Linked DNA regions of Homo sapiens: region 1 is linked to region 2. Evidence: fine-mapped expression QTL. A gene starts in region 2. The other region holds a variant in brackets. All regions are shown on one strand. Distances are from middle to middle.

Region 1 (5,363 bases), 24 kb after region 2:
GGGGCCACAGGAATGAGAGCAGGCGGGGTGCCACAGTGTGGGGGAGGCCTCAGCAGTGAGGGGCCCACACAGCCTTCCAGACGGTGGAAACACGCATTTTGTTGATTATTTTTAAAGTTGCCAGCAATGTAGGTGGGAAAATCAAATCAGGCTCGTTTGTTCTTGACAGTGTACAGGTCTCGCATTTTTATCATGGTAGAAATTAAAATCTCCACTCCCATGTCCCCCGGACACACACAACCCCCACACACCTGGCAGTCCCACTAAGTCAACACTGACAAGGGTGGGCTCTGGGGGACGCTGAGCCCCACCAAAGGAGGGCTGTATCGTCTCCTTGGGGTAAGGATGGAAACCCCAGGCTTCCTCAGACCCCTGGCTCTGACCCAAGCCTGGCCCTGAGGGTGGGGGCTTTTTTAGTACCTCCCACCCCAGTCTTGAGGGATCCCAGGGCAGAAGTACAGGTGACAGTGGGGGCTGGGTCCATGACCCCCTCCCCTAAAGTCATGGTGGGAGCAGAGCAGCACTAAGCAGACAGTGGGACCCCAGGCCCTTTGTAGAGAGGAATGCAGTCCCCTGAAACTGAGTAGTGAGAACAGGGCCGCTAAGAGCCCCTGCTCTGACCCTGCTGTGTCCACAGTGGCCTTGAACTTCCAGACGCCAGGCTACGAGATGGACCTCAATGCCGGGCGCTTCCTAGTCAATGGGCAGTGTGGCTACGTCCTAAAACCTGCCTGCCTGCGGCAACCTGACTCGACCTTTGACCCCGAGTACCCAGGACCTCCCAGAACCACTCTCAGCATCCAGGTCAGCAGGCTGGAACGGGCCCCAGTGTGGGGTCAGACTGGTTCTAGAAAGGCTCTTTGTGAGGTGGAGGAAGGCAAGGGAGGCTGGGGACATTTGGAAGTGAGGGTGGTGTGAGCTTGAGGCCCATGAGGGGATGGCCAAGGTGGGCGTGGGCCCCAGCCACTCCCTCCCTCACCCACAGGTGCTGACTGCACAGCAGCTGCCCAAGCTGAATGCCGAGAAGCCACACTCCATTGTGGACCCCCTGGTGCGCATTGAGATCCATGGGGTGCCCGCAGACTGTGCCCGGCAGGAGACTGACTACGTGCTCAACAATGGTGGGCAGCCACTGGCGGAAGTGGGGTTGGGGGAGACTGCAGAGAGCGAAGGGTGGTGCAGGGTGGGTCCTGGGGCCCCTGGGCTCTGACTGCCATCCCTGTGCCCTAGGCTTCAACCCCCGCTGGGGGCAGACCCTGCAGTTCCAGCTGCGGGCTCCGGAGCTGGCACTGGTCCGGTTTGTGGTGGAAGATTATGACGCCACCTCCCCCAATGACTTTGTGGGCCAGTTTACACTGCCTCTTAGCAGCCTAAAGCAAGGTTGGTGGAGGCTGGTGGGGATGGAGAGGGATGTGGGTCCAGGTCCTGCAGACCCTGTTCACCTTTGTGCCTCGAATTTCCTGCCCTGAAGCAGGCCCGGGCTGGGCCAGACCCCCAGGGTGCACAGAGGACCTGAGGCCTGGCTGTCCTCCCTACAGGGTACCGCCACATACACCTGCTTTCCAAGGACGGGGCCTCACTGTCACCAGCCACGCTCTTCATCCAAATCCGCATCCAGCGCTCCTGAGGGCCCACCTCACTCGCCTTGGGGTTCTGCGAGTGCCAGTCCACATCCCCTGCAGAGCCCTCTCCTCCTCTGGAGTCAGGTGGTGGGAGTACCAGCCCCCCAGCCCACCCACTTGGCCCACTCAGCCCATTCACCAGGCGCTGGTCTCACCTGGGTGCTGAGGGCTGCCTGGGCCCCTCCTGAAGAACAGAAAGGTGTTCATGTGACTTCAGTGAGCTCCAACCCTGGGGCCCTGAGATGGCCCCAGCTCCTCTTGTCCTCAGCCCACCCCTCATTGTGACTTATGAGGAGCAAGCCTGTTGCTGCCAGGAGACTTGGGGAGCAGGACACTTGTGGGCCCTCAGTTCCCCTCTGTCCTCCCGTGGGCCATCCCAGCCTCCTTCCCCCAGAGGAGCGCAGTCACTCCACTTGGCCCCGACCCCGAGCTTAGCCCCTAAGCCCTCCTTTACCCCAGGCCTTCCTGGACTCCTCCCTCCAGCTCCGGAACCTGAGCTCCCCTTCCCTTCTCAAAGCAAGAAGGGAGCGCTGAGGCATGAAGCCCTGGGGAAACTGGCAGTAGGTTTTGGTTTTTATTTTTTGAGACAGGGTCTCGCTCCGTCGCCCAGGCTGGAGTGCAATGTTGCAATCATGGCTCACTGCAGCTTTGAACTCCCAGGCTCAAGCGATCCTCCCATCTCAGCCTCCTGAGTAGCTGGGACTACAGGCACAGGCCACCAAACCTGGCTAATGTTTAAATTTTATGTAGAGATGGCGGGGGGGGCGGGGGTCTCCCTATGTTGCCCAGGCTGGTCTCGAGCTCCTGACCTCAAGTGATCCTCCTGCCCCAGCATTCCAAAGTGCTGGGATTACAGGTGTGAGCCACTGCCTGGCCTGGCCGTAGGTTTGTAACTGTTTCATAGAAGAGCCCTGGAGAAGACAGTAGAATGAGCCTATCTAGTTTAAAAAATAAAGAAGCACGTTGATTTCACCACCGCCACTCCCTGAGCACCTCTATGCTGCCACCCCCACAGGCCCATGAGGAGGGACAGGGCTGGATGAGTTTCTTGGGCCTCTCCCCTCAACAGGGCATGGACTTGGCTAAGACAGCCAGGG[G/C]GTGGCAGCAGGAGATGCCACAGCTCTAAATAGCCCGATCCCTGCTCCTGGCTTAAAGCTGCTGCGAGTATCACAAGACTGTCTGAGGATGCCAATTCAGCAGGTCAGCGCCTCCCCACAACACACACACACACACACACACACACACACTCACACATACACAGAGGGGCCTTGAATGAGGAGGAGACAGGAGTCTGAGGGACCCTCAGACTGCCACTCTCCAGGCTTGGCTGGGCTCAAGGCCCCTGTCTGCTCAGTAGGGCAAATCCCAAGGACACGGGCTTCCCTTCCTCCAGCCAGCCAGCCTTTTACACAAAGGCTGGAAACGCTGCTTGGGCCGCCTCTATAGAAATGCCAGGAGAGCGCACTGGACACTAGGCGACAGAATCTGGAGAAAATCCTGCACCCGCCCCTGCCAGCAGGGTGAAATGTGGAGGCCTGGTGTTTTAGGTTCTGCCAGCCAACAGTGCCGGCACTGGACAAGGGCAGAACTTGACATTAGTCCCCAGAGGGTGGCCTGGAACTGGGCTGGGATAGGCCTTGAACTGGCCCCAAGCCCCACAGAAACCAAAACACAGGGCTGGGGCAGACTCCACCTTCTAGCAACTCCAAGAACTAATGCAGAAAGTGGCAGTGTCCCCCGCTCCTTCATGCTGGGAGTGGCGTTTGGCTCTGGTTAATTTGTGTGTCTGAAAGAGGATAATCAGAATCAAAAGGGCCCAGAAGGAATGGGCCGAGCCAGGCGGGCCGGGCCAGGCAGCCCGGGCATCTGGCACTCAGGGCTGTCAGAGGGTCAGGCTGCCAAACTGCAGCCTCAGGATGGGAGGCACAGTGAGGCTAAGTCCAGTTTTAGCAAATGAAGAGCCATTAGCATTGCCCAGCCCCTGCAGAGCCAGGTCTGGCCAGGGGCTGGCTGGGGGGTCTGGGTCAGGTGAGCACCAGACCCAGGGCTGAGTGCCCATCCTGCTTGGCTTCTCTGGTTTCGTATCTGGTACCAAGAGGAAGGGGTGAAGGCTAGGATGAGGGCCCAATACTGAGAAGGCTGCCTTGAAAGGGCAAGAGTCTTTTTTTTTTTTCTTTTGAGACAAAGTCTTGCTCGTCCCCCAGGATGGAGTGCGATGGCGTGATCTCGGCTCACTGCAACCTCTGCCTCCCGGGTTCAAGCGATTCTCTTGCCTCAGCCTCCGGAGTAGCTGGGATTACAGGCGCCCGCCACCATACCCAGCTAATTTTTGTATTTTTAGTAGAGACGGGGTTTCACCATGTTGGCCAGGCTGGTCTCGAACTCCTGACCTCAGGTGATCCACCCGCCTTGACCTCCCAAAGTGCTGGGATTACAGGCGTGAGCCACTGCACCCAGCCAAAAGGGCAAGAGTCTTTAAGGAAGTGAACTGGGAAGCAGAAGCAAGGGAGAAATCACAGGGTTTTTTTTTTGTTTGTTTTTTTGAGATGGAGTCTCGCTCTGTCGCCTAGGCTAGAGTGCAGTGGCACGACCTTGGCTCACTGCAAGCTCCGCCTCCCGGGTTCACACCATTCTCCTGCCTCAGCTTCCCAAGTAGCTGGGACTACAGGCGCCCACCACCATGCCCGGCTAATTTTTTTGTGTTTTTAGTAGAGACAGGGTTTCATAGTGTTAGCCAGGATGGTCTCGATCTCCTGACCTCGTGATCCACCCGCCTCGCCCTCCCAAAGTGCTGGGATTACAGGCGTGAGCCACCATGCCCAGCCTGAAATCACAGCTTTTTATCCCAGAGGCCCATGGGTAGAAACAACACATAGGGCTATGTTCTCTCAGCCCAAAGCTAAGGGCAGGAAAAAAGGCATGGGCCATAGGAGCCTGAGTGACTTGGTTTGGGACAGGAGGGTTGGGGGGCTTTAGAGGGGTCAGGCAGGTCCTGTGTCCTCTCAGTTTCCCTGGAAAGGGGCTTGGAGGCACCAGTCATGGACCTGAAAGGATCAGGGGGTCAGGGAATGGGTAAGTTCCAGAGGATGAGAAGAGGGGGAATGGGAAGTCTTAAACACAGCTACTGGGGCCCAGCAACTTGCCATGTTAAAATGCACCCCTAGTGACTCAAAGAACCACCCGGCCAGTGGTGCAGGAGGAGAGATGTGGCACCTGGGCACAGTGGGAAGGCACGGGGCCTGCACCTCCACCAGAGGAGCCACTGCTGACCTGGACCAAGGGGGCTGCTCTGTGCCCAGCTAGGGAAGCCTGGGCCGGCTCCTGTGCTGAGGTGCTCAGGTGCTGGCTGAGAGCCCAGTTGCTGCTCTAACTTGGAGTGAACCTGGGTCAATAGCAGCTCGTCTCTGGCGGGTGGGAAGGGTCTGACAACACCAAGTTTGCCCTGGAAGAAGGGCAGCCTTAAAGGAAGGCCTTTGGAAGCTGGCCTGGTGCTGTGGGCTTGAGGGACTTTGTGTCCAAGCCCTGTCGTCCTGGCTCCAGCCTAGGCTCCAGCACTCCATTTCTTCCACTGCCACCTGCTGACCAGGAATACCAGGACAGAAGGTTTTGTTCAGCTGCTTTCTTTATTAGAAACAAGTGAGATGTATTGAGCAGAACAACAATGCATTTGGTATTTCCTCCCCGACCCTGGAAATGGATGCCCCCCCACAGCCCAAAGAAAAGCCAAGACAAAAAGGTGAA
Region 2 (5,363 bases):
CAAAGTGCTGGGATTACAGGCGTGAGCCATCGTGCCCGGCCAAAGTCATTAACTTCTCTGGGCATCATTTTGTCATCTAAAAATTAGGAGAAGATGTCATTTCTCTCACAGGGCTGCTTGCTCAGAGGAAAAAAGGAGAAACTTTTCAAAATGTCCATACAGGACCTGACACACAACAGGAGTTCTAGAAGGGAAGAGGGCAGAACTCATTGTCTTCTGAGATTTCCAAACGGGGGAGTCCAGAGAATATGGATGACTTCCTGAGGCTGTGCAGCTGTAGGTGGGAGAACTGGGCTAGGACTCCCATCCCGCTGGCCTTACTCAGGACCTGCAGAGGGTGCAGACTCCTGGGTGCCCTTTGGGGAGAGGAGGGAGGGCGGGGACTTTGCCCATCCAGGCAGGTATCTGGCTGGTTGGCAGCCCTTCCTGGACAGAGGCTTCTCGCTCAGTGCCCAGCAATGGACTTTCAACTCTGCCCTAGGAAGGCAGCCAAGAGAAAGCCTGGGGTGCCAGGACCACGGGAAAGGGCAGAAGTGGGTGAGAGGTTGGGTAGGAGCTCACCTTTCTTTGTGGGGGGCACGGGGCTGTTCCTGGGATCACGCTTTCCTCCAGATGCTGCCCGCTGCTCTGTCCAAACCTGCTGAGATGAGTCAGAGAGCTGAGGGTGGGAGTGGGAGCACAGTGGGGTGGGAAAAGGGGGGAATGGGGACTGGGCTCACCAGCTCAGGCTCCAGCTGCTCCAGGGAATCACAGAAAACCTCGGAGTCCAGGTCCCTGGGTGAATGGGACTCTGTGGAGGGGTTGGTAGAGTTACTGCCCAGAGGGAAGCTGTGGAGGGAGAGCAGGAGTGTGCACTGGGCAGAAGCACCTGTTTAGGAGACACTAGAGATACGAGGCACTAGAGATATCAACACCTGAGGCACAGATGGGCGCCAGAAGCAAGGCCCTGGAACAGGAATCCTAGACCCCGGTCCCCACCTTTGGGAGCACAGGAAGTCTCAGTGTCTGTGGAGGGCACAGCGTGGCATCCAGCCTTCTCCCCTCCAGCCCTCCCCCAGCCTGAGTTTGGTCCACCCCTCCTGCTCAAGCACTAACCTGGGCTTGGGGGTGCCGGTTCCTTGGGGAGGCAGGGAGGCTCTGAAACAGCCCCAACATCTCCATTCACAACCTGCTCTTTCCAACCTGCCAAGACACAGCACCCAGAGGTGGGCCTGGGGAGAGGCTGGCACCTCCCAGTGTGATCAAGCCCCTACTCGTGATGAGCCGTGGATGCTGCCTGGGATCCACCTCTCGGGGGCTTGGGGGCCCTAACAGGGATGTCGCCTGGAGCCCTCTGCCCCCAGCCCACCTCAGCCTAGACCTAAGACGGTTCACTCAGCACTTTTGGAGCTCCCAGCCTGGGAGTCTGACCTGTGACCCTTCTCAGGAAGGTCTCTGGGGGCCTCGGCATGTCAGGGATCACCTGGTACAGGGGCTCGAAGTAACCAAACATGTCCTCTGCCACCTCACCCAGGGGCACTGTGTCGATCACCTGTAGGGGAGGGGGTCTGTTGGGGACGGAGTGGCCTCCTGTCCCTTCCTCCCTGCTCCTGCCCTGTCACACACCTCCACCCTGTGCCCAGTCAGGGGCCAAAGATAGGCAGGGTTGGGGGTAACATGAAGGTGGTGATTCCCATGAGGGGGTCCATGTGTAGGAAACGTAGTGGGGGTCAGAACTGGAAGGGTGAGGCCACCTGGCCAGGAGCCTGGGGACAGAGAACCTGCAGCCCTTACCTTCTGTGCCACCAGTTTCATTTCAGTGATGTAGGCAGACATGGCCTCCTCCCTGCTCATCTTGCCCAGACTGTTCCAGGCGTCCCTGGGGGCAGAGGGCTGTGAGAGGGCTGCTTGACAGCTGAGGCTTGTCTGCCCAGCCAGCAGGGAGCTCACCACTTATATCGTCCAATGGGGTCCCAGAACCCGGGCCGGGGGACCAGGCAGGGCCCCATGGTGGCCTGCTTGTAGTAACTGTAGAATCGCAGCATCTCTTCATAGGAGGGGCGGTAAGAACCTGGGCAGAGAGTTGGGAAGCCAGGGCAAAGCATCACTCCCAGCTCCAAGGGGCGGAGGGGCGGGAGAACCCTGCTTGGAAAGGGCAGAGGTGGTGATGGGTCCCACCCAGGGCATCTGGACTAGGATAGGAAGCGGAGGGAACCCCCAGGACAGCCCAGGCAGGGGCTTGTCTGCAAAAACTGCAGTGATCAGGACCATTCTTTCTTCAGAGTCAGACCCCAGGCGTCCTGAATGCGAGTCCAAATGCGAGTCCCCGCAGCCTCACCGTTCTTGGGCAGGTTCTGGATGACGCTCACTGCAGCCTGGAACTGTTTCTGGCAGTCGGGCTCTGGGCTTTCTTTCTCGGTGCCCATGCTGCTGCGAGCCCTGGGGCCCTACTTTTGAGCGACTCTGCAAGAAGCAGCCTTCGTGTGAGGGGGCCTCCAGGGTCCCCCCGGCACCATAAGCCAAGGATTCACTTCCCAGAGGGGCAAACTAAGCTCTTTAGAGGCCTCAGACACCCTGGGAGGTCAGAAGTTGTGGTTGAGGAGCCTCCTTTTCCTACCTCAAGGCAGTGTGGTGGGGTCAGGGTCGCCAGGTGGCGAGGCAGGTGGCGAGGGCCTCAGTGCCAGATGTGTCCGTCCCCAGATGCGCCTCCTTTAGGTGCACATCTCCAACTCCCGAACAGGTGGAGAAACAAGATAGGAGTACTCAGGGCGGGGCGAACAGTCTCCCACCCTGGCCGCCTGCACCTTGGCCCAGCGTGTGCCCCGCGGCGCCCACTGCCAGGACACCTGGGTCCTCTCTCGCCACCACCCCGCGGCTTCCTACTGACCCCGGGGTCCAGCAGGGCCGGGATGGCGACGCAGATCGAGGGGGGGAATTTAGGCCAATGAGAGAGCCTGTTTCACATTCGGCTTACCTACCTCAACCATTCAGCACAGCTCTTTCAAGATCATGCAAATAGTTTCTCAGAGCCTTTCCCAATCAGGCGGGGCTTAATCGAAGGGTCGGACTTCCCAGCCCGGGATGGCCAAGGCGGGCGGCAGCGCCCCCTGGTGCACATAGTGAAAGGTCGTGGCGTCCTAGCGCCCCCTGGTGGAAATCCGCATCTGTTCGCTGATATCCAGGCCTGGCCGATCCGAGGCAACCCACTCAGCTCTCTAGACACTTAGGCACTGGGGATTAAAAAAAGTCATGTCCTGTGGTCAGGTGTTCTAGAGGAAGGACATCACAGCTCAGTTTTGGAAGATGGTCGGGCACGGTGGCTCATGCCTGTAATCCCAGAACTTTGGGAGGCCAAGGCGGGCGGATCACCTGAGGTCAGGAGTTCGAGACCAGCCGGGCCAACATAGTGAAACCCCATCTCTACTAAAAATACACAAATTAGCCGGGCGTGGTGGCGCGCGCCTGTAATCCCAGCTACACGGGAGGCTGAGGCAGGAGAATCGCTTGAACCCGGGAGGTGGAGATTGCAGTGAGCCAAGATTGCCCCACTGCACTCCAGCCTGGGCGAGAGTGAGACTCCATCTCAAAAAAAAAAAAAGAGTAAGCAAAATGGACATCGCAGAATGATGGTTACCAGAGGCTGGGAAGGGTACTGGGGAGGGGGGGAAATGGGTACAAAAATACAGTTAGAATGAATGAGATCCAGTGTTCGGTAGCACAATACAACGATTATAGTTACCAATAATTTATTGTATCTTTTTATTTTGTTTATTTTATTTTATTTATTTATTTTTTTGAGACGGAGTCTCACTCTCTCCCGGGCTGGAGTGCAGTGGCGTGATCTCGGCTCACTGCAATCTCCGCCTCCCGGGTTCACGCCATTCTCCTGCCTCAGCCTCCCGAGCAACTGGGATTACAGGCGCTCGCCACCACGCCCAGCTAATTTTTTGTATTTTTTAGTAGAGACGGGGTTTCACCATATTAGCCAGGATGGTCTCGATCTCCTGACCTCGTGATCCGCCGACCTCGGCCTCCCAAAGTGTTGGGATTACAGGCGTGAGCCACCGCGCCCGGCCTATTGTATCTTTTTAAATTAATTATTTTAAAAACAATTTTTGTAGAGGCAGAAGTCTCATTATGTTGCCCAGGCTGGTCTTCATTCAATACCTGGCCTCAAGTGATCATCCCACCTCTGCCTCCCAAAGTGCTGGGATTACAGGCGTGAGCCACCGCATCCGGCCAATTTATTGTATATTTCAAAATAACTGGGCGGGAAGTGGTGGCTCAGGCCTGTAGTCCCAACACTTTGGGAGGCCAAGGCAAGAGAATTGCTTTGAGGCTGCAGTGAGCTATGATCATGCCACTGCACTCCACCCTGGGCAACCAAGTAGTGAGACCTTGTCTCTAATAAACAAATAAAATACAAATACAAATAACTAAAAGCGGAATTGGAATGTTCCTAATACAAAGGAATGATAAATGCTTGAGGTGATGGTTACTTCAATTACCTTGATTTGATCATTACACATTTTATACCTGTATCAAAACATTACATGCCTCTCCATAATTCTCTGCAACTATTAAGTGTCCATAACAATTAAAAGAAATGTAGACTTAGCCTATCCAACAACAAGAATAACAAAAGGGTAAACCAGGAGAATAAGGAAGGTTGTTTCTGGAGGAAGGAACGGCAGGATCAAAAGCACAAAGGCGAATACGATAATCAAGAAGAAAATTCAGGGCCGGGCGCGGTGGCTCACGCCTGTAATCCCAGCACTTTGGGAGGCCGAGGCGGGCGGATCACGAGGTCAGGAGATCGAGACCATCCCGGCTAAAACGGTGAAACCCCGTCTCTACTAAAAATACAAAAAATTAGCCGGGCGTAGTGGCGGGCGCCTGTAGTCCCAGCTACTTGGGAGGCTGAGGCAGGAGAATGGCGTGAACCCGGGAGGCGGAGCTTGCAGTGAGCCGAGATCCCGCCACTGCACTCCAGCCTGGGCGACGGAGCGAGACTCCGTCTCAAAAAAAAAAAAAAAAAAAAAAAAAAAAAGAAAATTCAGGACCCCAGAGTGGCGTAGGGACCCAAGCCAGTGTGCAGAATCTCTGGGCCTGGGAGATCTGAGGATGGGGTAGAGCAGGGCAAGTAGGTGGCAAATCAGGCCCTGAGCACTAGCCTCTCTGTAGGATGCCACGCCGCTGGCCGCCGCAAAGTGGCGGTGTGCGCCCATGTCTCTGCCGGACCCAGGCCACCGGCCGCAGAAACGCTGCCACCTGGACGTCCCCCACTTCGCGCACGCACTCTGGTGCTTGCATATAAATAGTAAGTGCACACCCGACTCGGCCACCAGAACCTGCACACGGATGCCCACCCACGGGTTGACGTC

Direction of the effects. Positions count from the first base shown, and alleles are read on the strand shown. Sizes are in standard deviations (SD) of each study's normalised expression.
As copies of C replace G in region 1, the expression in anterior cingulate cortex of the gene that starts at base 2,863 in region 2 goes down (small effect, 0.36 SD a copy in GTEx).

Evidence for each region. PIP is the estimated chance that this variant, and not a neighbour inherited with it, causes the effect. A credible set is the group of variants that fine-mapping cannot tell apart.
Region 1: its variant is the best candidate, but not a certain one, in a credible set for the expression of ACBD4 in anterior cingulate cortex (GTEx, PIP 0.72).

The regions. Positions count from the first base shown.
Region 1 is chr17:45,108,880-45,114,242 of GRCh38, reverse strand. PLCD3 (phospholipase C delta 3) reads left to right here. Exons shown (of 15, transcript NM_133373.5): 12 at 638-804; 13 at 986-1,121; 14 at 1,231-1,380; 15 at 1,539-5,284. The coding sequence ends at 1,627. NMT1 (N-myristoyltransferase 1) reads right to left here. Exons shown (of 12, transcript NM_021079.5): 12 at 5,227-5,363. Among named protein-coding and RNA genes, the nearest start is that of MIR6784, 2.9 kb to the left of the region's middle. RefSeq lists enhancers at 583-1,447, 1,448-2,313. The variant G/C (reference allele first, on the strand shown) is at 2,720.
Region 2 is chr17:45,133,187-45,138,549 of GRCh38, reverse strand. It overlaps ACBD4 (acyl-CoA binding domain containing 4), which reads right to left and starts at 2,863. Exons shown (of 10, transcript NM_001135705.3): 1 at 2,597-2,863; 2 at 2,318-2,442; 3 at 1,930-2,050; 4 at 1,774-1,858; 5 at 1,411-1,531; 6 at 1,096-1,182; 7 at 720-790; 8 at 562-637. The coding sequence starts at 2,405. RefSeq lists an enhancer at 5,242-5,311.